Homo sapiens: one gene and its partner. The protein of the gene in region 2 purifies or fractionates together with the protein of the main gene of each other region. This does not show direct contact. Each region holds a gene or a part of one and is shown on either strand. Other genes may lie near its edges.

The links. The genes of interacting proteins can lie anywhere in the genome.
Region 1: the proteins of HOXC13 (region 2) and TEAD2 purify together in Homo sapiens (tandem affinity purification; one large-scale study listed by IntAct). This does not show direct contact.

Annotation. Positions count from the first base shown.
Region 1 is NC_000019.10:49,351,384-49,355,916, forward strand, and holds part of TEAD2 (transcriptional enhancer factor TEF-4), read right to left. Parts: intron 4,037-4,533; coding exon 3,929-4,036; coding exon of another isoform or gene 3,920-3,928; intron 3,824-3,919; coding exon 3,765-3,823; intron 1-3,764. UniProt on the Homo sapiens protein: Transcription factor which plays a key role in the Hippo signaling pathway, a pathway involved in organ size control and tumor suppression by restricting proliferation and promoting apoptosis.
Region 2 is NC_000012.12:53,939,774-53,944,447, reverse strand, and holds part of HOXC13 (homeobox protein Hox-C13), read right to left. Parts: intron 1-4,674. UniProt on the Homo sapiens protein: Transcription factor which plays a role in hair follicle differentiation. Regulates FOXQ1 expression and that of other hair-specific genes.

The DNA.
Region 1 (4,533 bases), on a different chromosome or scaffold from region 2:
CAGGGGTTAGCCAGGTAGAAAGATGCTAATGTCACCAGCAAATGTTTACTGAGAGGCCACAACAAGCAAGACCCTGTGCATTTTGTGCACAATCTCACTGAAGCCTCACAGTGCGTGAGGTAGGTAGAATGACTGCTCTTTTCATTGCACAAATGAGGACAACTGAGGTATAGAGGGGTCAACTGACCTGCCCAAAGTCACACAGTTGAGATGCAGCAGAGCTGGGACTTGAACCCAGGTCAGTCTCAGCCCGGTATCTCAGGCTCTTGATGATGACATTTTGGTATCTCTCACAAAATGTCAGAAAGAGAAGAGAAACCAGCCTGGCGTGGTGGCTCACACCTGTAATCCCAGCACTTCAGGAGGTTGAGGCGGGCAGATCACTTGAGGTCAGGAGTTCGAGACCAGCCTGGCCAACATGGTGAAATCCCATCTCTACTAAAAATACAAAAATTAGCAGAGTGTGGTGGTGCGCGCCTGTAATCCGAGCTATTCAGGGGGCTGGGCCAGGAGAACTGCTTGAACCCGGGAGGCAGATGTTGCAGTGAGCCGAGATTACGCCATTATACTCCTGGGTGACAGAGCAAGACTCCATTTCAAAAAAAAAATAAAAAGAAAGAGGAGAGAAGAGAAACCAAGTCTTGGAAGGCAGGGAGAAGACGCAGAAGACAAGGAATTTGGAGGAAGAAGAGGCTGAGGGGTTGGGAGGGTGGGAAGAAAATGACCAACACTCAGGAGATGGGACAGGAGGCCAAAGTCGGGGTGGGGAGGCAGCACTGGCCAATAGAACTTTCCAGGGATGGAAATGTTCTATTGGATGGAAATCTGTGCCATCCAATACGGTACCCAGTGCCCACATGTGGCTACTGACCACAGACCACGTGGCCACTGAGCACAAGTGTGGCTCATGGACCTGAGAAACAGAATCTTTAATTTTATTTAATTTTAATTTAAATAGCTGCATGAGGCTAGTGGCTACAGTATCAGTCACAGCCCTAGTAGCCCAAGAGATAGTGGTGAAGAGACTTAGATGTCAGAGGTCAGACCAGGCGCAGTCGCTCACGCCTGTATTCCCACCACTTTGGGAGGCCAAGGCAGGAAGATCGCTTGAGCCCAGGAGTTTGAGACCAGCCTGGGCAACACAGCAAGACCCCAGCTCTATTTTTTTTTGAGACAGAGTTTTGCTCTTGTTGCCCAGGCCGGACTGCAATGGCGTGATCTTGGCTCACCGCAACCTCCGCCTCCTGCATTCAAGCGATTCTCCTGCCTCAGCCTTCCAAGTAGCTAGGATTATTACAGGCTGTGCCACCACACCCAGCTAATTTTGTATTTTTTTAGTAGAGACGGGGTTTCACTGTGTTGGTCAGGCTGGTCTCGAACTCCTGACCTCAAATGATCCACCCACCTCGGTCTCCCAAAGTGCTGGGATTACAGGCATGAGCCACTATGCCTGGCCTCCTTTTCTTATTAATTCTTTGTTTATATGTTTATTGTCTGTCTCCTCCCCCGCCCACCAAATATATGAAGCTCCGTGAAGGCAGGAATTTCACCTGTCTTACTGCTGTGCCCCCAAACCAAGCACAGTATCAGGCACTTAGTAGGCACTCAACAAATACTGGACTGGCCTCCTCTAGATTCCTGGAACCCAGAAAGATCTCCTACCTGAGGACTTTGTCGTGTGCTATTGTGTCTGCCTAATATATTCCCACTCCCATTCTTTTTTTTTTTCCTTTGAGATAGAGTCTCGCTCTGTTGCCCAGGCTGGAGTGCAGTGGCACAATCTCAGCTCCCTGCAACCTCTGCTTCCCAGGTTCAAGCGATTCTCCTGCCTCAGGCTCCGGAGTAGCTGGGATTACAGGCGCACATCACCATGCCTGGCTATTTTTTGCATTTTAGGTAGAGATGGGGTTTTACTATGCTGGACAGGCTGGTCTCGAACTCCTGACCTCAAGTGATCTGCCCTCCTTGGCCTCCCAAAGTGCTGGGATTACAGATGCGGGCCACCATGCCGGGCCTCCCACTCCCATTCTTCACCTGGCTAAGTCCTACCCGGCCTTCAATGTTATCTTCTCAGAGAAACCCCTAGAACTTTCTCCTCCACCCCAGAACCTGCTGTGGTTCTTCACAGCACCTCACACATTCTTCGATTTTCTGTTTATGCAGGTGATGATTTGATGAACGCTCATTTCCCCCATTTGACTAACAGCTCCATGAAAGCGGAAACCCCAGCGTCAGGGCAGTGCCTGCCCAGCCCCCTACCTTCCAGCTAAGCAACCCCCCTGCAAAACCCTCAGCCCCCAGGTACTTGATCTGATGCTTCCCGTATCCCCATTCAGCAGCAGCTCCCCAGTGACCTTCCTTCTCTTCCAGTCTAGATCCCACACAGCCTGTCACTGCACTCTTTTTTTTTTTTTTGAGCTGGAGTCTCGCTCTATTGCCCAGGCTGGAGTACAGTGGCACAATCTTGGCTCAATGCAACCTCTGCCTCCTGGGTTCAAGTGATTCTCCTGCCTCACCCTCCTGAGTAGCTGGGACTACAGGTGCCTGCCACCACGCCCAGCTAATTGTTTTTTGTTTTTTTTTTTTTGGTGTTTTTAGTAGAGACGGGGTTTCACCATGTTGGCCAGAATGGTCTCGATCTCCTGACCTCGTGATCCACCCGCCTCAGCCTCCCAAAGTGCTGGGATTACAGGCGTGAGCCACCACACTCGGCCCTCACTACACTCTTTCTCTGACAATACCGTCAACACTCCTGCCTCACCGTCCTGCAGCCACACTACCCAACCAATGCCTAGCCTGGATCCATCAGTTCCTCTCTGGGCTGAGAAATACACCCCTAGCCCGCCACGGTGGCTCACGCCTGTAATCCCAGCACTTTGGGAGGTCCAGGCAGGGGGATCACTTGAGCCCAGGAGTTCAAGACCAACCTGGGCAACATAGCAAGACCCCCGTCTCTACAAAAATCAAAAAATTAGCCAGGTGTGGTGGCACATGCCTGTAGTCTCAGCTACTCAGGAGGCTGAGGCAAGAAGATTGCTTGAACCCAGGAGGCTGAGGCTGCAGTGAGCCATGATTGTGCCACCGCACCCCAGCTTAGGCAACAGAAGAATATCCTGTATAAAAAAAGAAAAAAAAAAAAAAGCACTTCCCATCATCTTCTGGGGCCCATTTCTATTCTTGTAGGCTACAAACATATCCCGTCACCTCAAGGCTCTCTCAGAACTGAAAAGGACACTCCCACTTACCTCTGGGAAACATTTTCTTCCTTCTGAACCTAAGAGAAGATTAATTATAACCTCTGTTCTACCCTCAGGTCCAAGAACCACCTAATAGAGGCTGGGCACGGTGGCTCACGCCTGTAATCCTAGCATTTGGGGAGGCTGAGGCGGGTGGATCACGAGGTCAGGAGTTCAAGACCAGCCTGGCCAACGTGGTGAAAACCCATCTCTACTAAAAATACAAAAATTAGCCGTGCATAGAGGCAGGCGCCTATAGTCCCAGCTACTCGGGAGGCTGAGGCAGGAGAACTGCTTGAACTCAGGAAGCGGAGGTTGCAGTGAGCCGAGATCGCACCACTGTACTCCATCCAGCCTGGGCAACGGAGCAAGACTCCATGTCAATAAATACATACATACATGCATACATACATACATACATACATACATAAATGGGGGGACACAGGAGCTAGAAGGTGGAGTGAGAAAGGTCTCTGTGGGAGTGTGAGGGTGGGGGGCAGGTGCTGAGCCAGGACACATAGTACTCACTCTGGAACATTCCAGGGGGGCCCAGATCCTCCAGACCAAAACTGGAAAAGCTCAGAGGCCTGGATAGGACACAAAGAAAAATGGTTGGTCAGTCCCCTGTGGACAGCTGCAGCCCCATCCATCCCCCTTTGCCCCCACGTCCCACAATCCCCAACCTGGACCACCTGAGGACCAGTGGGACCCAGTTTGGCCTGCAGAGAAGGCGCGGAGATGAGCTGGGCAGAGGACATGGTTGCCATTGTCTGGAAAGCCTTGTCCTTGGAAACCTGGTCCTGGAGGAGGAGGCGGAAGTTCATGTGAGAGGGGCATCTCAGTCAACATGGCAAGAGGGGGATGGTGCCAGGGTGGGGTGAAGACGGGGAGGTGCAGAGGTGGGGAGTCAAGGCAAAGGGTTAGTGGCCGGGCATGGTGGCTCACGCCTGTAATCCCAGCACTCTGGGAGCCGGAGGCGGGCAGATCACTTGAGGTCAGGAGTTCAGTATCAGCCTGGCCAATATGGTGAAACCCTGTCTCTACTAAAAATACAAAAACTAGCCAGGTGTGGTGGTGCACACGCATAATCCCAGCTACTAGGGAAGCTAGGGCACAACAATCACTGGAACCCAGGAGGCAGAGGTTGCAGTGAGTGGAGATCGTGCCCCTGCATCCAGCTTAGGCGACAGAGCAAGACCCTGTCTCCAAAAAGAAAAAAAAAGGCAAAGGCTTGGGTTGGGGGAGGGTTGAACCTCTCCCCACAGCCCTCTGCCCCTCCTCAGGGACAGGGCACTAG
Region 2 (4,674 bases):
TATTTCAGGGAGGGCATGGCAGGCAGGGGGTCAGCTTCAGTGGGCCCAGACCACCAGATGAGTCTTCACGCCTTTGGACACTGGCCCTACGTTAGGGATGTGAGGCACAGATAGAAGATAAGTGTCCAGGTGAAGCCAGCCTGCTTGGAGGTCCACACTCTAGGAATTGGGGTCCAATGTTATGAACCACCTAACACCCAAGGTGGGGGGTCCTGAACCTGAGATATAGGGAATCAGGTGTCTCTGGAAGTAGGGGGTCCACACTGCAGTCCCACCAAAACAGAACAAATTCTGTTCCAACCGCCTTCCCTCTCCATTCCTTCACAGCTGAAGGAAACTGTCTACATCCCTTGCACCAACCATAACCCTAAACCCTAGATGCCTGTCATCCAAACCAATATTACCAGTTCTGTTTCTTTAGGCTCTGAGAATTTCACAGAAACTAAAACCAATATATATCACTTCTAACTCCATTTTCTACTCCACCCTCATCCCTGTCAATAAAGGTCACGCAACACTTTCAAGGGGAAGTGGGGGAACTAGGGAGATTATCTGGATAGCTCAGCCCTCAATTTTTTCCATGTAATTATTAGACTTTAGGTGAAAGCTAATGAGGAGGGCTGAATATTTGGGGTTTCCCCTTCATTCCTACCACATTTTGAAACTATAGACACAGCCCAGAGGGAAGACACAAAGTTCTTTCTGAAATGTTTGTTCCCATCCCACCCTCACAGAACACTTTCCCTGTACCCATCCCCATTGGGTCTGCTTTCTCTCATGGACTCTATACACAATGGGAAGAGTAGTGGTCACAGTGAGACACAGGGGAAAACAAAATGCTCAGGAAGAAAATGGGAGACGGGGTCCAATGGCCTCATTTGACTGTCTTCTGGTGACAATTTCTCAGGAAAACTGTTGGACCTGGCATTTTTCTCTGCCTCTGTGAGAATAAACTATGATTTAAAAAAATCTAAAAAACAAAATAACTTTATTTAAACAGTATGGATCCTTTAGGTTAAAAAGGATTTGTTTTTGAACACGACCATTATCTTTAAATCTCTCAGTTCTCAAATTTGTTTTACTCTTACAGAGGTAACCATGATTTGGGAAATTGACGATTTGTTGACAAGAATAGAATGAAGAGGATATGTAGTGATACCATGAGTTTGTTGCTTTTGTTGTTGTTATTGTTGTTTTTAATCCTCAGAACATTTTTTCAGGATTATTTTGTTAAACTCATTTTACAAGATTAGGAATCTGAGGCTCAGAGTGGGTAAAATAACTTAAGTGGCAGAACCAGATTTTAAAGCCAGACTTTCTGACTCTTAAAATGATACAGTAAGTTTTAAAATGGAAATAGGCCAGCTAATACAATCCAGCTTTAAAACACCTCCTTTTCCCTGGAGAAGAATACAGTAGGGTAAAGGTGGGTTTTTGTTTCTGAATTAGCCAGATAATTGTCCCTAATTTTTTACTTTACTCTCTTTAAACTCTCACAATTACCTATCCAATTTTGGTTTCCTAAATTCTAGCTCTAAATTTCCAATGAGATTTAATCAACCCTAAAAAAAATCAGTTTAAAAAGTAGACAACTGGTTTAAACTGGTTATTTTTCTCTATAGGATGCCAAGGATTGATTTAGCCAATTTGTCCTGGATCAGACCAACTGCAGGTTGGTTTGGCCTCCTGGGGAAATAACTCCAGTCTTGCCTTCTCAAAGAAGCCCCCTTTCTTTGTCTGCTGCCTTATCTGGAAAGGAAATGGTATGTAGAGATGAAGAAACATCTGGTAGCTTGGACCTGGAGATGTGCGTACACTGCCTAAAGTGAGTGGGGGCTTAGTTATTAATCTTACAATCACCCCTTCCCTAGTCTCCCTCCAGATCACATACACGAATGACTTCATGCCTGGAAACCTAATAGACACCTTTGAGGAGTAAATAAAAATCATCTCAATGCTCAGCCATGGCTTTCTTTTTGGGCTTCGGGGCCCCTCTGTTCAGCTCCCCACAGCCCACCCACCCTTGACCACCCGCCCCCCCACAGGCAAGCTCTGGGCTCTGAAGAGTGCCTTGTCCAGCTAGAAATCCAGCTTGCTACTCTTCCCAACCCAAATCCAAAGGCTTGTCAGTAAAGACTTCTAGTGTGGTCCAAATAGCCCACTGTTTCTTTCTCCCTCTTTCTCTCTCCTAAACCCCATCTCTCTTTTTCTCCCTTTCTGATTCTCTCCTGGAATTTCTGCTTCTCTCTCTCTCTCAAAAAAAAAAAAAAAAAAAAAAAAAAAAAAAAAAAAAGTCTACACTCACCGTAGGGAGAAAAAAAAAAAAACCAGAGCAATAAAGCAAGAGTCTGTATAATTGGGAGAAGGAAGAAGCCACGACACATCTTGGCCCTAATTATCTGGATCTTGCTGAACAATTGCCTCCATCTCCCACACCAGCCCAGACTACCACAGATGAGGATTCTCAGAGCCAGAGGCACTGTAGAGAGACAGCAGTGTTTATGCCTACATGTTGCCGAACAAACCACAATTGCACAGACAGAGTTATCTTGAAATCTCACTACTTCTAAAAGATCTCTGAGTGGGTAGAAAGATGGAGAGTGTCTGAAGATAATTTCTTATTCGTCTGCCTCTTGTCTGTACCTCTGCACTCACTGAGATACATCAGCCCAATTCTATTTCCACACGGGGATTGTGGGAGCACATAGCTGCTGAGGCATGCTAGGTTTTATATCCATTTCCATGCCATAATTTGCAAGTGTATTAAATCTCAATTGGGATATACTTTTTTTATTTCAAAGATATTTTTCTCTAGGAGGCTGTGATCAAAAAAGTATTTATTTTTAGTGGAGTTTTGTTTTGTTTTGTTTTGTTTTGTTTTGTGTCCTAGGAATCTTTGAGATGTTTATTTTGCTCAAAGATATTTCTCAGCTTCTCTCCAATCCTTCACCCCTACTCCACACCACATTCATACATAGAACAGCTCCTTCTCTTCTACCTCTTCACACTAAACCCATTGCACATTGCTCTGGGCCTGTGCCCCCAATCCACAGTGGGTTTGGTGGGCACCTGATCCCTTACCCCTTAGCCCCTTGGCATAGCCCATTGGCTTCCCTGCCCCAGGAATTCCTGCTGGACCCCAATCTCCTAAGAAGCTTTGTGTTTTGGTGAGATAGAGAATTAAAGGGCCATCTCTCTAAAATACATTGCTGTATTATGAACATGTGAATTGTCTTTCTAGAAATCTATTATTGTATATTTCATATTAGGTAGTTAATAAAAGAAATCATATTATATAAAAATATTACAGCCAATACAGGGTAGGTGATGCATAATACCATGTACTAAAATTGCACCATCCTTAATTCTGGCAATCAGAAGTCAGGGTGCCTAGTGTAGGTCATACCCTGGTATTGAGTTGTGTTATACTAAGTAATTTCATAATATTCACAAGAATGTTATTTGCTACACTCTCTAATATCACTCAGTATTTTTTTTTAAACCACCTACCTCTTCTTCCAATTCCGTATGCAGAGGAATTTCAGGCCCACCCTTAGGAGGTCTTTGGGTCTATGCTTTCCAAGGAAAACATCCCTGAGCTTGGCACGTGGAGCTGGTCGGGGAGCTGGGCACTGTCGGGAGACATCTGTGGCTGCCCTGGGCCCCCCACCCCCAAAGACCTCTGTAGGTATCAGAAGGGAGAACGCTCTCCCACTGAGCTCTGCTTACAGGGAGAACAGACTCAAATGCTGGACTCCCTAGACCGGAATCCTGATTTCTCAGCACAAGGCAGGATCCAAAGCTCTTGGTGTGGTTTTGGGAAACCTGGGACTGGTCTTGTCCGCAAGGAGAGCGGTGGGATTTACAGGAGCCTTTCTCTCTTCAACTGGAGACGGAACAAGAGGGGAATGAATTCTCCCTTCCCATCCTTAGCCAGACAAGACCAAGGGGTCCCCAGCCTGGGTCTGGACTCCAGAAGCCCCTGAACAGGTCTTGAACAGGTCTTCCTCTCCCATTTCTCATCCCCACGCCCTTCTTTCTGTGTCTGGGGCACCAATAACTAACTCTCTTTCTCGACCACATATGGGGGAGTTGGCAGTGGAAATGTCTATAGGTTTGAGCTCAATATACCAAAGAGGCAAGGAAAACTTTACAATGCTGGGGAGGGATTCTAGCCTCCTCTCCACTCCCTCTCCAGAGATTTTGGATCTTCTGTTCCCTCAACAATCAGGAAATTCGTGGCCAGATTTTTAAAATAAGTCAGGAAAGGAAAAAAATAAATCTCACATTTCTGTAGACCCCAGCAAATTAGTCCCCTATTTAAAAAATACTGTCTAGTGCCTGAACGATCCTGCGAATTCTGTCAAAGAAAGTGGGGGTTCTTATTCTCCGCCCTCCCCAGTTATTCGGTGGGTTGGGGGTTTTGTCCTGGATTCCAAGGCACTATAGGCCCACCCCGCCCCCATCCCTTGCCGGAAGCAGGTTTAGGGGCCAAGAGCCCGGCGGGAGGCTGGAGCCTGCAAGGGGAGGCGGAGGCGAGCTACCGGACAGAGCAGAGCCGGCGGCCCGGCTTTCGGGCGCCTGTGATTGCTTCATTCTCGGCCGGGCAGCTACAGAGAACGTGTCGGAGCAGATTTCTTCCCCGGCGCATTCCTCAGTGCAGCTCGCCCGGCC